Linked DNA regions of Homo sapiens. The protein of the gene in region 4 interacts with the protein of the main gene of each other region in a biochemical or structural test. Each region holds a gene or a part of one and is shown on either strand. Other genes may lie near its edges.

Region 1 (4,269 bases), on a different chromosome or scaffold from region 4:
GAGATTTTAACAACCTAACAACCTTCTCTTAGAAATTGACAGAACTAGACCAAAAGGAAAAAAACCCCACAAAAATCAATTTATCAGAGAAACACCATCAACTACCTTGATCTAACTGACAGATACAGAACAAACACATGACAACGGTAAAATACACATTCTTTTCAAGTGCATATGAAACATTCACCAGGACAGATCATATGCTGGACCATAAATTAAATCGCAACAAATATAAAAAGATTGAAATCCTACAGAGTATGTTCTCTGACCACAGTAAAACTATATTAGAAATCAATAGCAATAAGGTATCTACAAAAACATAAAATACTTCAAACTGAAACAACATACTTCTAAGTAACCCATGGTCAACAAATAAATCACAAGATATATTAAATTGAACAAAAATAAAAACACAACGTATCAAAATGTGTAGGATGCTGCTAAAGCAGTTCTCAGTGGGAAATGTATAATTTCATTATTTATTTATTTATTTAGACTGAGTCTCGCTCTGCTGCCCAGGCTGGAGTGCAATGGCATGATCTTGGCTCACCGCAACCTCCGCCTCCTGGGTTCAAGCAATTCTCCTGCCTCAGCTTCCCGAGTAGCTGGGACTACAGGTGCCTGCCACCATGCCCAGCTAATTTTTGTATTTTTAGTAGAGTCGGGGTTTCACCATGCTGGCCAGGCTGGTCTCGAACTCTCCACCTCAGGCAATCCACCCACCTCGGCCTCCCAAAGTGCTGGGATTACAGGCATGAGCCATCGCGCCCAGCCAGAAATTTATAACTTTAAATACTCATATTAGGAAGAAAGATCTTTTCACCAGGTAATGAAAAAAAAAAGGAAGAAAGATCTAAAATCAATTAGGTAAAGTTCTAGAAAAAATTGAAGGAAGAAAGCAAGATCAAAACAGAAATCAATTATATTTTTAAAAATAAACAATAGAGAAAATTGAAGTAAAAAGTTAGTTCTTTGAAAACAAAATAGATAAAGCCCTAGTCATACTAAGAGAGGGAACACAAATTATCAAAATCAGAAATGAAAGGAGCATAACATTAAAATGATAAGGGAATATTAATAAAAGGTGAAAAACAACAACAGAAAAGTCATTTTTTTTTTTTTAGTTCACAAAGCATAAGCAAAAGTGTATATAAAAAGAGGATTAATTTAACTCTAAATATGAACCTTCCACAGTCGAAATCTCTTGTAATTCCACAAGGGGAGAAGTCGGTTCTGTTTTCATCGTGTTTTCTCCCATTGATGGGCAGTTCAACTCCAAGCCTGCAGCCCCGGATCCATCCCCAAAGGAGTGGCAAGTCAGTGCAGATGAGACCTGGCCAGCTTCCAAAGCAGACTTCAACTGACCTAGAAGAAAAAAAGAAAGTTTGGGGGAAATATACATGTATGTAATTCTGAAATCAAAAGTCCTACAACAGTCTAAGAAAGCCAGGGACTTTTTAGAGGAAGGAATTAATCTAAAACATAAAAGCATACATTCACAGGTTCCCATACATACAGGCTGGCTTGTGAGCTTCTCAAAGAAAGAGGTTAAAGTGAAAGGAAAAATAGCTGGAAGTATAAACACAAAGGCACGAATGAGATGGCAGCAGAGAGAGAGAAGCAGGGCTCTTCGAACAGTGTACCTCCAGGCCAACACTGAACGGTAGATAAGCAAAACCAACCACAAATGCATCCAGAAAGTATGTCTATTGAATAAATCATCAGTGAAGAGCAATACATTATAAAAACACTGCAGCACATTCAATAGTTTGATTTCAAGACAATTTAATACTTGTGGAAGGCAGAACATAATGATTTACATTGATTCTCACTAAATAGGAACCAGGTTGGCAAGACAATTCCTGAACAGACTGACTCACCTTCTTCAGATTCCTTGGTACTAGACAACGTGTCTTGCAAAGGATCCGTATCAACCAAATCTGATACAACCAAGTCAGGATCTAGGATCTCATGGGTCCCATTAGTGGACAGCCTGGAGGAACGTCTCCTCGATAAGTCTTTGTCAGTGTTTTCCGAGTAGTTTTTTGACTTTTCCTGGGCTATTAAACCATTAAGAGAGTTGTAGTCAAGAGACCAACAAGAAGAAATAACTGTGCTACTACAGATTTCAGGGCTGGATGTCTCTAAAAGGACTTTACAGAGAGACTACTGGAATGTTAGAGTAGTGATAAAAGGAAATACCCTTTACTAGTTTACAGTTTTAAGTAAGGGAAAAGTGTCCCTGCCAGGATAGAATTTCACTTCTTTAAGGATTCATGGTCTGAAAACATGTGCTAGGTCATGTCCGAATCTTGACAACTATGTTCTATTTTGGGGCTTCCCAAATGTACTAACTTGCAAAGTCGACTTAAAAAGGTTTATAAGAGCCTTACTTAGAGCTATCACAAATCCTTTTTGGAGCCAACAGGATACTATTTTATTTTAAATTTATTTAAACATTTGAGCCAACTCACTCCAGAGGGTATTTTTTTAAATCAATAAATAGTATTTTATTTTGTATTTTTATTTTTTATAGGACAGAGTCTCACTCTATCACCCAGGCTGGAGGGCAGTGGCACAGTCTTGGCTCACTGCAACCTCTGCCTCCCAAGTTCAAACAATTCTCCTGCCTCAGCCTCCCAAGTAGCTGGGATTACAGGCACCCGCCACCACACCCGGCTAATTTTTTTTTTTTTTTTTTTTTTTTTTTTGAGACGGAGTCTCGCTCTCTCGCCCAGGCTGGAGTGCAGTGGCGCGATCTCGGCTCACTGCTAGCTCCGCCTCCCGGGTTCATGCCATTCTTCTGCCTCAGCCTCCTGAATAGCTGGGACTACAGGTGCCTGCCACAACACCCGGCTAATTTTTTATATTTTTAGTAGAGATGGGGTTTCACCATGTTAGCCAAGATGGTCTCAATCTCCCGTCCTCATGATCTGCCCACCTCAGCCTCCCAAAGTGCTGGGATTACAGGCGTGAGCTACCGCGCCTGGCCACACCCGGCTAATTTTTATATTTTTAGTAAAGATAGGGTTTCACCATGTTGGCCAGGCTGTTCTCAAACTCCTGACCTCAGATGATCCACCCACCTCAGCCTCCCAAACTGCTGGGATTACAGGCATGAGCCACTGCGCCAGGCCAATAAGTAGTATTTTTAAAGTTTCACTCTGCATATGAAACCCATCCCTTCCTAAGCCATTAAATTTCCAGTGGCATCCAAATCAAATGTGATTTATGGATATGGAGATGATACCACAGAACCCAACATTAGTACAGTTTGTGCTTTGGGATTTATTTTTCTTCTAGCAAAAACTCCTTCTGATCCAACTGCATCCAACTCACATTACCTCATGTGACCAGAGACAAACATTAGAGCCTATAGGGAATGGGGGACAGGATGAATATAGAGGAAGTTGACCCAAACAACGTCAAATTCTAGCCACACATAAACAAACTGTAGACTCACATGAATTTTTGTCAAGCCGAGGACGTTTTAATGGGACTTCACATCCTTTTGATATTTTCCTTCTTCTCAGTTCCAATGTTATTGGTTGCAAAGTTTGAGAGTTTGAATCCACAGCTACCATGTTTATAAAACCACACAAAAAAAGATACATAATTTCTTAGTGTCTGTCATTTTTATATATAAATAAAACATATATACATATATATATGCAGAAATCACTGCATTATAAATGGGCCATCAAAAGGGCATTCTTACTTAAGATAAAAGAAAAAAAGTAAAATGAGTGAGAAATTACTTCCTTACAGGAGATGGTGATACCTTGCCAATTGACCTCCTGAATCTTTTCTATGATCCAGCTCCAGTTTTCAACCTCTACTTGCTACATTAATTATCTTAGCACTGGGCCTAGTTTTGAGGGTACAAGAAAAATGTCCAAGAGAATTTGTGGATTTTTTTTTTTTGAGATGGAGTCTCGCTCTGTCACCCAAGCTGGAGTGCAGTGCCGCGATCTCTGCTCACTGCAACCTCCGCCTCCCAGGTGCAAACGATTCTCCTGCCTCAGCCTCCGGAGTAGGTGGGATTACAGGCACCCGACACCACACCCGGCTAATTTTTGTAATTTTAGTAGAGTCACGGTTTCCCCATGTTGGTCAGGCTGGTCTCAAATTCCTGACCTCAAGTGATCCAGCTGCCTCGTCCTCCCAAAGTTCTGGGATTACAAGCATGAGCCATGAGACCCAGCCGAGAATTTGTATTTTCTTAAACAAAATCCTAAAAAAATTCTTGGGAGACTATGCTAGTTAACA
Region 2 (4,269 bases), on a different chromosome or scaffold from region 4:
CACAAAATATGCACTTAATCAAGTTAAAAATGTGCATGAGTCAGTACAAATTCACTCCCACTTCCGAAAATATCTCTCAAAAGAGTACTCTCGAAAGTAGGTCATCTTCATATATGAAAGGCTGCAAATTATTACAACTTTTACTCAACACTACAGATATATTTTATTCCTAATAGCAGCAAAAGAATTGGCTGTTGATGTACAAAGCTATTCAAAATAGTTGGTAACTTAAAGAAATCCACAGATAACCAGTCATTCAGAACATGGAACAAAAACAATGAAAGTTCTGTAAGAGTTAGTGCTTAAGGTACAGTAATATATAAAATCTCTTACAATCTTTTGTGAGGAATAATATCTTAATCTATCTATCTCTACATATTATAGACTAGTATATCTAGATACCAATTATGCAAATCACAACACACTACAAGTCATTCCTTCCCTAAAAACAAAACAAAACAAAACAAAAAACAAAAAACAAACAAAAACCTCTGTTAGACTCAATTATACAGATATTATTCTAACTACTTTAGGCAAAATAAATGCTATCTCTCATTTTACTATAATTATACAACTATCATTGCAAAAATGTAGACAGCCGTGTATCTGAAAATGTTAGAATAAGTTGTGTCTGAATGGATAGAACAGGCACTAATGCTATACAGAAATCTTTACTATGCATTTAAGTACTGAAATTTATCCGAGTTCTGATCATAAATGTTTGAGTATTCTGAGGTAATCTAGAAATGGAAAAATTAATTGTCTCTTAGATACGAAATGGAGAGCCCAAGATTAAGTTGTATGCTGGCAATGCATAGAATTTAGGAAGACCGTTCAAGGCAGTTAATCAAATCCCTGACTGAAGTCATCATCAGAGAACCAGACAGGGATTAGGAAACTTGGAGCAGAGACAGCAGGCTGCTAAGTTTTCCACCCAACTGACCTTCCTCCCTGGGATAAGTTTTGACAGAGAATACCAACTGACAATGCACTGTTACACTTTGGCAATTACACTATCCTCTCAATTAAGATGTTTTAAAATAATAAGCTGGCCCATTAACACTATTACTAACCTAAACACACATACGCATGCACACAAACACAATGTGTCAGTTCTGTAATCCAACCTGGTTTGTGTTTGATTAAATCAGAAAACATTTCAGCCATTAGATTGATGCTCTCAAACCAACTGGTTAACACTGTTTCCCAAATGAAGGATTTTTGGAGTGAGGAGGTTTCTCCTGCTCTTGATATTTATTTATTTCCATTTGAAGGGAATGCTGTTAGTGAAACATTACTGCTTCTCCCCACTGTCTCACTCACTGCTACCAGCCTGGTGACTCTGGAAAGGAGGAACTGATCATACTAGAGAGAAAGCTGGGCTGCAGGGTGCACAGTTTCCACTCTGCTCCTCAAGGGTCTAGTGTTCTCCAGGCTTGGGGGATGGGCGTGAAAGGCGAATTAAATCTCTTCCATTCTAGGGCTCAGAATCAAGCTTATTTGTCTGCAGATACAAGCCATGCACGTCCTCCAACTCAGCTCTGACCATCTGTAAAGATGGCATTTTGGTTTTCCACTGGCTTGCCCTTTATTCTTTCCAATTAGATCAGAACTTGGGAAAAGAAAAATGTCATGGATCAAGTCGGCCAATGGAGGAACATGTTATGGAAAGCAGGAATACCGGTCAAGTAGAAAAGACACGCACATCCAGATTTTGTTTTTGTTTACTGTAAACAAAGCTATAAGCTAGAGTGAAGATATGTCACAGTCTCCAGTGACCTCCTACATGTAAACTGAAACAGGGCTACCTTCATCTGGCTATGTGAATCCCATTTGAACAGCACTCCCATATAAGTGATAATAACAATAAAATATCTCAGCCAATTTAATTTTTTATGCATCTTAATTGTAAATCTCACCTGAATCTTGTACTATCTTGTCTTCTACTATGCAATAAAAGAGACAACCATAATATGGCTATAAAACATATTTGTTCATGAAGATTTTAAGCTAATTTTAAACTTTAATTAAGATAAGAGTACTCTATTTACCAAGGCGATAAAATTTATTATAGTTCCTTGTTATCACTTGTAATTGATCCTATGAGACACTCAAAAAACTTCTTCCTTTGAAAGAAAACGTGTTTCGTATGTACTTACTATATTCTGATTTTCAAATAATGACTTAGGAGCAGCTTGAGCTTTACATGTCTTAAGATAGGTCTGCCAATTGAATTCTTCTTCTTTATACCCTAGAGTAAGCACATATGAACAGATTGATTCAAATACCACAATATTTTACACTTAGTTTTCCAGTCCCACTTTTATCTCTAACATGCCAAAATCAATCAAATGACTTTTTAAATAAACAAAATTTAACTCATAATTCATAACTATGCATATTTAGACTATGTTTATTTTCAACAAACTGTATTATTATTTTCCAATTCTGAATGAATGGTAATGGATATAAAGAAAAGGAATAAGGAAACAAATATGTATTATACCCAGGACACTTATTATCAGGGTATTTGTACCAGTATTTAGGTAGAATTCCTCAGCGGTATAGATACTGAACTACAATAGTCAAAATTCTTTATTTTTCTCTCACCTAGTCTATTTTGGGAAGACTAACTTATAGGAACAAGTGGAAAGGTGGAAATAATAGAAATGAAACAGGTAAAATCTTTTTGGCCTATCACTTCAAGAAGGACAATTTAAGGTTTATGAAGTAAGGATGCTGGCAAATTACAATAAGGGAAATGTCCTCCCCTTAATTTTTACAATTTCATTGAAGTTAACATTTCCTTTAAAAAGGAAATTGAGCATCTTATTTTATCTGCGAATATGCTTTATTTTACATTCATTAAAGTCCAGAAAGCAGCATGAAAAAACCAGCTAATAATTTACCATATATAAGAGATCAATTCGTGAAAAGGCTTACAGATTTTCTTTTTCACCCTCACTTTTTCTATGCTATTTTGTTGAATCCTTCAGCTATCTGAAAATACCACTCTGCCATTATTTTTTCACTTAAAACAAAGGGATGGCTAATGCATTAAAGCCCTGAGACAGGCCAAAAATATCAACCCAGTAACCTGAATTTTTGACATAAACAAAAATCAATGTAATGATTGAAATAGAAGGGAATAAGATATTACTAAATATGGCCGGGCACGGTGGCTTACACCTGTAATCCCAGCACTTTGGGAGGCCAAGGTGGGCAGATCACTTGAGGCCAGAAGTTTGAGACCAGCCTGGCCAACATGGTGAAGCTCTGTCTCTAATAAAAACACAAAAATCAGCCAGGCATGGTGGCAGGCACCTGTAATCCCAGCTATTCGGGAGGCTGAGGTAGGAGAATCACTTGAACCTGCTAGGCAGTGGCTGCAGTGAGCCAATATCACACCACTGCACTGCAACCTGGGCGACACAGCAAGACTCCGTCTCAAAAAAAAATTAGGGAATACTTTAGGCAGACAGTGAAAAAGACGATATCTGTTATTCTTGAACTTTGATATAAACATGAAATAGGAAAATCACTGGGGGACTATAATATAAAGTACTCAAATATAAGAAAAGTAATTGCTATGAGTTCAACCCCCCACCTAAGCCAATTTTTAGTGTTACAGTCTTCTTGCCAATCTCCTAAATATTAAGATCTATACGGTCAAGCATAATTTCTCAGGATTTTCTATATAATGAAAAACTGATTTGAAAAATTAGTTTAAACCAGTTAACACTAAACTTAGTTATATAAACTAATTTAAACTAATTTTTCAAATCAGTTTTTTCAAAGATGTATGTATTTAATAATAGAAATTTGCAGGTAAACATTATTTGTAGTCAAAGTTGAGTATCATGCAAATGTTATTTTACATGAAAATAAGCATATGAACATACTTTATTTTCCTAGGCTGGATTCTGCTTTTATTTCTTTAACTTTAATAAACATGGTTTCATCATAAACAATAAGGTTAAATTTGTGCCTATCTGAATTTTCATAAAGTCTGAATTCTTAACAATTCTAATGTAGCATGTAAGAAAATGAGTTTTTACTGAATTTAAAATATCAAACAAAAAGTGACAAAACCTTTTGGAGGATGGAGTTTGTGGCCGGTTTTCTCACACCACCCAACTGGGTGGATATCCAGAGCGTCTGCATTCACCCAGAAGTCATAGCAATCAGAATACCCATCAAAGTGAAGCTTTATCCGGTATCCACAAACCTGAAACAGGTAAAATAGGTTGAATTATTTTTTTTAACTCA
Region 3 (4,269 bases), on a different chromosome or scaffold from region 4:
CACCCCCCAGCCTGCCTCCGCCAGAGACAGGGTCTTGCTTTGTTGCCCAGACGAGAGTGCAGTAGTGGAATCATAGCTCACTGAAGATTCCAACTCCCGACTCAAGCGATCCTCCACCTCAGCCCAAGTAGCTGGGACTACAGGCATGCACCACCATGCCCAGCTAACTTAAAACACACACTTTTTTTTTTTTTTTAATAGAGAAGGGGTCTCATTTTGTTGGCCAGGCTGGTCTTGAATTCCTGGTGTCAAGTGATCCTCCAGCCTTGGACCCCCAAAGTGCTGGAATTACAGGTGTGAGCCACTGCACCCAGGCCCTATATTCTAATTTGCTACCCTGAGACTCCAAATTAGTAAACCCAAATTACTGGGTAGAGGACAATAAAAGTCTCTGCTCTGTAGTATTATTTTCATTAAAGTCTTCTTTGGCCTGGCACGGTGGCTCACACCTGTAATCCCAGCACTTTGGGAGGCCAAGGCAGGTGGATCACTTGAGGTCAGGAGTTTGGGATCAGCCTGACCAACATGGTGAAACCCGGTCTCTGCTAAAATACAAAAATTAGCCGGGCATAGTGGCAGGCGCCTGTAGTCCCAGCTACTCAGGAGGCTGAGGCAGGAAAATCGCCTCAACTCGGAAGGCAGAGGTTGCAGTGAGCTGAGATCACGCCACTGCACTCCAGCCTGGGCAACAGGGTGAGACTCCATCTCAAAACAAAACAAAAAAAAGTCTTTTACATTACCTGTTACACTGCACATGGGAAGTACGCTATAATCATGCTAGTGGCCTTAAGTTTTGGGAGAAGAGGGAGGAGCCCATTCATTTCCTAATGTTTTGATGGGTAAAAATAATTTTTCATGTTTCATGGGCTTAATAAAGAAGGGACTTACGACACATACTTAATTTAAACTAAGAATACTGAAGGATAAAACAGGCAAACGTAAATCTCCCATTCAATTCATAATTCCCAAACTGCTATGAATTAAATGTGAAGAGCAGGGGAAGTAGGAGATAACAGATAGGTGAAGCCCAATCATTCGACTATCATATGCTCCATCTCCAGCGTGCTCAGGAAATTGATCTCCACCTATCCATTTTTAATTGTCACTGCCTATGGAGCTTTGTGGTGTAAGGGGGAAGAATCAAAGCAGATAAGCACAACAAACCCCAAGCGTTAAAGTATGTAATTGTTGCATGTTCAAGTTATTCACATTTTGTGAATAACATTATCAAGAATAATGAGAGCAATCCATATCAAAGAACACAAGGAACCAGAGAGCTTAAAACATGCCCAGGTTCTACTTCTTAGGTATAAGGATATAATAAACCTAGTATAAAGCCTAGATTATATGTAATCCTGTATGAGACCCACTAGTCTATATTGTAAAGCTTCAATGTTTTTAGCACCCTCTGTGTGGAGGAAAATAATGCAGATTATTCTAATTAGTGTAATATCTAACCACATTAAAATATATTACATAGTAAACTACACTCCATAATTTTATAAATTTGACTCCCCAGGGTAATAAACTAGTCTCTAGTCTGCTCACCTTCAACTGTACAATAAAGTCTTGGTTCTTTTGAAATAGACCTCAAATGAGACACCTAAAATTCAAAGTGTCTTTACATTTAAAGACACCTACAGGAAAGCAGGTAAAAGAGCCAGGTTAAAAACAAATTCTAAAACCACTTAGCTGCAGTTAAACATATAGTAAAGATGCACTAAAGTTTCTTACTCTGTAAATCCCTTCCACTTCAGGAAATATTCCACTTTCCCATTCACTACACGTCGATCTAGTACTTTTTCCACGACAAATTCTTCAGGCTCTGCCTCTTCAACTTTTTTACTCTTTCCATTCTGTTTTTTTCCCATTTTTTGCTAAAATAAAACAAAAGAGAAATTAAGAAATATTCCTCTTGAATTTTGAGCACATTTTCAAGGCTCAATTGCTTATATTATTATCACATTCGACATAAATTTTTACTTCTATATCCCAGGGCAGACACCTTCTGGAAAGATTAAAAGTCAACAGACAATAAAATAAAAGAATGCTTTATCTTGTTCATTTAGTTCAAACTTACAACCCACCACCAAAATAATACAATAAAAAAACACTATCTGGAAACAGTTATTTTTTTCCAGTCTTTTTTTTTGAGACAGGGTCTCACACTCTTGTCGCCCAGGCTGGAGTGCAGTGGCGTGATCTCAGCTCACTGCAACCTCCGCCTCCCCAGGTTCAAGCAGTTCTCATGCCTCAGCCTCCAGAGTAGCTGGGATTATAGGCGGATGCCACCATGCCGGGCTAATTTTTTTTGTGTTTTTATTAGAAACAGGGTTTCACCATGTTGACCAGGCTGGTCTCAAACTCCTGACCTGAAGTGATTCACCAGCCTGGGCCTCCCAAAGTGCTGGCATTACAGGCGTGAGCCACTGCGCCCGGCCCTGTAGTCTTAAAAGACCAAGTTTACTAATTTTCACTCATTTTAACAACACTGCAACAAACAACTATGCAGGAAGTACCTAAAGGGTGATACAGAGAAGCAAGTAGTAGTGACAGGTCTTAGGTGAACCTATGACAGACCTTGTATCCACCCCCAGATGGTAAAAGCCCCAGCCCCCTTCTCAATTCAAATATTAATGTCAAAAGCATCAATGATACAGAGAAAAGATAAATGCAGAATGAAAACATGGTTCAAAATCCTGATACCAACTGCAGGGTCAACTATAGAGACCACTAGGAGGTTCAATTAAAGGACAAGATTATTTTTCCATAATCTCTGTAGATAATATTTCCTACCACTTAGAACAAAACTATAAAGCTATCACTTCAAGAGACCAACATTACAAATTTATTTTAATTCCCTAAGGTGAAAAAAATCCTTCCTTCCTGGTTTCTCAAGAGAAAGTCTATACTGGTAACCAAATTCACTTTAAACAGGCATTTTCTTTGGTATGACACTATTTAAGAGAAGCAGGAAACCAACGTGAACCAGCTCTTTCCAATGGCTCAAGATTTCCTATGAGAGGACTAAAAATGGGGAAAATTTTTATGAGAGGATTAAAAATGGGGGAAAAAAAACCCTGAAATGGTTAATCAGAAGATCCTATGGGCTGAGAAGGAATCCATCTTAACATTTCATCTTAAAGCAAATGCTATTGCCGGGGGCAGTGGCTCATGCCTGTAATCCCAGCACTTTGGGAGGCCGAGGTGGGCAGATCATCTGAGGTCAGGAGTTTGAGACCAGCCTGACCAACATGGAGAAACCCCGTTTCTACTAAAAATACAAAATTAGCCAGGCATAGTGGTGCATGCCTGTAATCCCAGCTACTTGGGAGGCTGAGGCAGGAGAACTGCTTGAACCCAGGAGGCTTAAGTTGCGGTGAGCCAAGATCACGCCATTGCACTCTAGCCTGGACAACAAGAGAAAAACTCTGTCTCAAAAAAACACAAAAACAAAAAACCCAAATACTATTTAAAAAAGATAAACCTTAATTGCTCAATCATTAAAGCCATCCCACAAGTAAAGCAGCAAGCAGAAAAAAGTTAAGAACACCTCAAGGCTACAGAAGGACATTTCAAGCTATGCAGGCATATGAAGTGTGCAGACAGATATGTAAGAAAGGCCTCAAGACTGCAAAAGGGCATTTCAAGCTATGCAAGCATATAGGTAACACATACACACACACAAAATAAAAATCCCCTGAAATACAAAAACATGCAGCAAACACCTGACGTTTTTGGATACCATTTCTAAGTCAGGTGTTATGATTCTCATTAGTCAAGATACTTGAGTACTGGGCCCAAACAGCTTTCTGCCACTGTACAGTACAAGAAGGTAGGAATAATGGTGGGAGGAGCAAAGACAAACTGTAATAGACAGAAGTGTATCAGATACCTATACTACATGAAAAACAAAACAGCTACTGCCACAAAGGGAGAAGGCTAACAAAATAAAGTCAACAATAAATACAGAAAATGAAAAGGATACACACTAAGGTTTACAAAAAAAAAAAGGCAGACAAAATGCCATACAGTATTCATTCACTACTATGGCATTCATAAGCTAGTTTCAAATGCTCACTATTTTCTTTTATAGTATATATTTGCCTTAACCCAGCACTTTTTTCCAAAAGTGGATGAGTCAAAATAAATTTCCCATTATTTAAGTGAAATTAACAGCACACATATCTCACAACACTAATGAATTTTTAAAATGGAAAGTTAAGAACTTTTAAAGTGGCCAACCTGTGATCCTTCACAAAATAAACT
Region 4 (5,040 bases):
AATGCCACTTGCTTATTTATTTATTTATTTATTTATTTTTTGAGACAGAGTCTTGCTCTGTCACCCAGGCTGGAGTGCAGTGGCACGATCTTGGCTCACTGCAAGCTCCGCCTCCCGGGTTCACGCCATTCTCCTGCCTCATCCTCCCGAGTAGCTGGGACTACAGGCGCCCGCCACCACGCCCAGCTAATTTTTTGTATTTTTGATAGAGACATGGTTTCACCATGTTAGCCAGGATGGTCTCAATCTCCGGACCTTGTGATCTGCCTGCCTCGGCCTCCCAAAGTGCTGGGATTACAGGCGTGAGCCACCACACCCAGCCACTTGCTTTGAAAACGGAGAAAAGGGGATCTCTAGCAGCTGGAAAAGGCAATTCCTGGATTCTCCCCCAGAGCCCCCAGAAATGAACGCAGACCTGCTGACACCTTGAGTTTAGCCCAGTGCAACCCATTTGAGACTCACGACTCCCAAACTGTAAGACAATAAACTGACACTGTTTTAAGCCACTGCGTTTGTGGTCAATTGTTATGGCAGCAAATGGGAAGCTAACATAGGTGGTGAGGAAAGTTTCGCTGAGGAAGTGATATCTGAGCAAAGCATGGAAGAAAGCAGGGGACTGAGCCAGGCGTGTATCTGGGAAAGAGAGTTTTAGGCTGGGAAAGAAGGTAGTGGCCCAGAGGTGGAAGTGCACCTGGTGGGTGTGGGAAGCCAGGATGGAGCGAGCTGAGGAGGAGCTGTGGATGCGGCTGCAGATGTGATGGGCGGGGGAAGAGAGGAGCAGCAGGAGGGGCCTGGGAGGTTTCCACAAGGCCTGGCTTTGGCCTGTGGTGGTAATACCAGGGGGTTTGGGCAGGGAGTCACAGGACCTGACCTCACCACTGACAGAATAAGCAGCACCACGCTTTGGACATCATCCACAAAGCAATGAACAAGCATTAAATGACTTAAACAGGGGAAGAGAGTGGTCCAATGTATTTGGAGAAGTTAAAAAGCCCTCTGACCACAGGAGAGGCTAGATATACTTTTGAACCCTTATTTTTTTGCTTTTTTTTTTTTGAAGCAAGGTCTTGCTCTGTCACCCCGGCTGGAGTACAGTGGTACAATCACAGTTCACTGCAGCCTTGAACACCCGGGCTCAAGCGATCCTCCTGCCTCAGCCTCTCAAGGAGATAGCACCACAGGCATGCACCACCACACCTGGCTAATTTTTAAAACATTTTTTTGTAGAGATGGGGTCTCGCTATGTTGCCCAGCCTGGTCTCGAACTCCTGGCCTCAAGTGATCCTCCCACGTTGGCCTCCCAACGTGCTGGGATTACAGACGTAAGCCATTGTGCTGGGCCTTGAGCCCTTGTTTTACCATCAGGCATTATTCTCAGATCTGTATGTAAATCGACTCATTTCATCTTCCCAGTCACCCTATGAGGAAGGTGTTACCAGGAGCTGCATGTTACAGTTGAGGCATCCAAGACCTAACGTGGTGAAGGAGCCCACCCGAGGTCCTAGGGCAGGGGCAATTAGGACCAGGTTGTGTCTGCCCCCGACACAACCAGGAAACACATCTACCTCTCCCGGGCAATTTCTCCAGAATTCTCCTGAACAGCTGCTGCACTCTGTTCCAAAGGTTAATGGGAATTAGTTTCTTCTGGTAAAAATGGGCAGGGTGATGGGGACCTACCTGGCCTTTAGCAGGGCTAAGGGCTTCATCCTCCTCTTCCCCTTCGCTGCCCAGGACCCGGGCCGCCTTCCTCCCTGGCCTCTTCACCGGAGAGTCACTCTCGGACACCACTCCATTCCACTCCTTCAGTGCCGCCCTGGAAGGTGGGGAAATGGGGGTGTAAAGGGGCGACTACAGCAGGCAGAGTGGGGGCACTGCCCGCAAACACTTTGGTTTCTTTGCTGTTTCCTTCCCTTCCTTTCAAGCATCCAATGAACATTTTCTGGTTGTCTCCTCAGCAAATCTCATCATTTCATCCATCAGTGCATTAATCCACCCGCCCACTCATCCACTCACCCACCCATCACACATCTCTGGAAGTCTCCAGAGTGCCTGCCCTGTGATGGGTGATGCTGAGGAGCAAATGGAGTCCCTGCCTAAGGTTGCCATTGGTCTCCAGCATCTATTGGGATGCCTTTTTTTTTTTTTTTTTGAGATGGAATCTTGCTCTGTCGCCCAGGCTGGAGTGCAGTGGGCCGAGATCACACCATTGCACTCCAGCCTGGGTGAGAGTGAGACTCCATTTCAAAAAAAAAAGAGTACTGTTGTCTTCTACTTAGATGAGACAGCATCAAGACGTGGCCAGTGGCCAGCGGCCAGCTTCTCTGCATTATGGAGAATGTCTGGTTCTAGAACGAGGCCAAGACCTGCAGAAACAGAGACGTACAGACAACTCCGAGGCCCTGGATCCAGCTGTGCCTGCAGCTGCTCTTGCTCTTGGACTTCTGGCCACCTGGCTGAAAAAGTTTTTTGGGCCCCAAGACATTTTGCATTAGGTTTGAACACTTGCAACCAAGACAATCCTGACTGCTAAAGGAAAAAATTCACCATATCCCAGCCCTGTGACATACTTTGGAGGGGGCTCCGTCTCTCTGCTGCTATTGGATGCCTCCTTCTCAGGCTTCTTTGCTTTACCCTCTTTCTTGGGGTGGAAAAATGACCTAGAGGAGCATAAAAGGGGGTAAAAAAAGGAGAATAACAGCACCAATACCCTGCCTATCTATGCTGTATCCTATAACTTCCTTTTTTTTTTTTTTTTTTGAGACAGAGTCTCGCTCTGTAGCCCAGGCTGGAGTGCAATGGCGCAATCTCAGCTCACTGCAAGCTCCGCCTCCTGGGTGCATGCCATTCTCCTGCCTCAGCCTCCCAAGTAGCTGGAACTACAGGCACCCGCCACCATGCCCAGCTAATTTTTTGTATTTTTAGTAGAGATGGGGTATCACCGTGTTAGCCAGGATGGTCTCGATCTCCTGACCTTGTGATCTGCTTGGCCTCCCAATGTGCTGGGATTACAGGCATAAGCCACCGCGCCCGGCCGCATCCTATAACTTCTAACACCATTTCCATCTCAGCACATAACAGAGAATTTCAAATAAGCCCTTTAACTTAACTGATAAGGAAACTCAGACTCAGACAAAGGAGGCAACACTAATTTTTCTGCCCTAACGCACCTGCAAGATATGATACATCCCAAGTTTTATTCAACAAATATTAACTATGCACTTTTTAAATCTTTTTTTTTTAGACAGACTCTCGCTCTGTTGCCCAGGCTAGAGTGCAATGGTGTGATCTCGGCTCACTGCAACTTCTGCCTCCCAGGTTCAAGCGATTCTCCTGCCTCAGCCTCCCGAGTAGCTGGGATTACAGGTGCCCACCACAACGCCCAGCTAATTTTTTTTGTATTTTTGGTAGACACGGGTTTTCTCCATGTTGGCCAGGCCAGTCTCAAACTCCTGACCTTAGGTGATCCACCCACCCTGGCCTCCCAAAGTGTTGGGATTACAGGCATGTGCCCCCGCGCCCAGCCTAAAAAAATTTTTTTTTTTGAGATGGAGTTTTCACTCTTGTTGCCCAAGGGTGGAGTGCAATGGTGCAATCTCGGCTCACTGCAACCTCGGCCTCCCAGTTTCAAGTGTTTCTCCTGCCTCAGCCTCCTGAGTAGCTGAGATTACAGGTGGCCGCCACCACGCCCGGCTAATTTTTTTCATTTAGTAGAGAAGGGGTTTCACCATGTTGGTCAGGCTGGTCTCGAACTCCTGATCTCAGGTGATCCTCCTGCCTCCCAAAGTGCTGGGATTACAGGTGTGAGCCACTGCGCCCGGCCTACCTAAGCACTTATTATGTGCCAGGGCCTGTTCTGGGCCTGAGGGGTTTGGCAGTGACCCAGACACACGAAGTTCCTGCCTTCAAGAAGCTAACACTCTGGTGAAGGGCAGAAATATTAAGCAAACAACTAAATATAAAATGTTGGGGCCTGGCATGGTGGCTCACACCTGTAATCCCAACACTTTGGGAGGCCGAGGTGGGCGGATCACGAGGTCAGGAGATCAAGACCATCCTGGCTAACACGGTGAAACCCTGCTTCTACTAAAAATACAAAAAAAATTAGCTGGGTGTGGTGGCAGGCGCCTGTAGTCCCAGCTACTCAGGAGGCTGAGGCAGGGGAATGGCCTGAACCTGGGAGGCAGAGCTTACAGTGAGCCAAGATCGCGCCACTGCACTCCAGCCTGGGCGACAGAGCAAGACTCTGTCTCAAAAAAAAAAAAAAAAAAAATGTTGGAAGGCGTGAACATTAAAAAAAAAATCTGGTGAAATCTGAATAATAAAGTATGGAGTTCAGTTAAGAGTAATGTACTGACATTAGTATCTCAGTGGTGAGAAACGGATCATAGTAATGTATGATATTGACAATGGAAACTGGCCAAGGGTATACAGGACCTCTCTGTACTGTCTTTGCAACTTTCCTGTACCTCTAAAATTATTCCAGAATAAGAGGTTTATTTAATCTTCAAAAAGAAAAGGAAAAATCATGCAAAAGCCAGTGGACAGAAAGCAATCGAAGGCACCATCAGCCCTGGAGAGACAATCCCCAGATTCCTCATCACGGGAGAAAAACGGAACCCAGCATTTGTGTAAGCCACTACCGCCCAGGTTTCTGGGATGGATGCCCTTGTCTGGGTCTCTCTACCATCCATTTTTTCCTCCTGGTAACAGCCCCTCCGTTTTCCTCTTGGGATGCTTCTTACCCCACATTCTCTCAGTACACACGATTTGAGTGGGCTGGCCCTTTTGCCTGTGACCAGGGGTGGACACGTGATCCAGGCTGCATCCCTGTGGCTGGTTCAGGGATAGGTATGTGGCCCAGGCTGGGCCAGTGAAACTGGGCTCTAACACCCTCTTTCCAAGGGGACCGCTAAGAGGGGAGAGCCCGCCTGAGGGTGAGGACAACCTCAAGGACAGTAGAGCTGAACAATGGAGAGAGACAGATTCCCAGGGAGGAAGTTTTGGCAACTGGATCGAACCAAGCCTGAGGCTGTTTACTCC

The links. Proteins that work in one complex are often made in the same cells at the same time.
Region 1: the proteins of LIG1 (region 4) and PHF20 interact in a test that uses a peptide from one of them, tested with the Homo sapiens proteins (one study listed by BioGRID).
Region 2: the proteins of LIG1 (region 4) and L3MBTL3 interact in a test that uses a peptide from one of them, tested with the Homo sapiens proteins (one study listed by BioGRID).
Region 3: the proteins of LIG1 (region 4) and CBX3 interact in a test that uses a peptide from one of them, tested with the Homo sapiens proteins (one study listed by BioGRID).

The regions. Positions count from the first base shown.
Region 1 is NC_000020.11:35,868,746-35,873,014, reverse strand, and holds part of PHF20 (PHD finger protein 20), read right to left. Parts: intron 3,578-4,269; coding exon 3,464-3,577; intron 2,061-3,463; coding exon 1,881-2,060; intron 1,366-1,880; coding exon 1,186-1,365; intron 1-1,185. UniProt on the Homo sapiens protein: Methyllysine-binding protein, component of the MOF histone acetyltransferase protein complex.
Region 2 is NC_000006.12:130,066,312-130,070,580, reverse strand, and holds part of L3MBTL3 (lethal(3)malignant brain tumor-like protein 3), read right to left. Parts: intron 4,229-4,269; coding exon 4,093-4,228; intron 2,252-4,092; coding exon 2,160-2,251; intron 1-2,159. UniProt on the Homo sapiens protein: Is a negative regulator of Notch target genes expression, required for RBPJ-mediated transcriptional repression. It recruits KDM1A to Notch-responsive elements and promotes KDM1A-mediated H3K4me demethylation.
Region 3 is NC_000007.14:26,203,976-26,208,244, reverse strand, and holds part of CBX3 (chromobox protein homolog 3), read right to left. Parts: intron 1,878-4,269; coding exon 1,735-1,877; intron 1-1,734.
Region 4 is NC_000019.10:48,159,695-48,164,734, forward strand, and holds part of LIG1 (DNA ligase 1), read right to left. Parts: intron 2,658-5,040; coding exon 2,568-2,657; intron 1,814-2,567; coding exon 1,678-1,813; intron 1-1,677.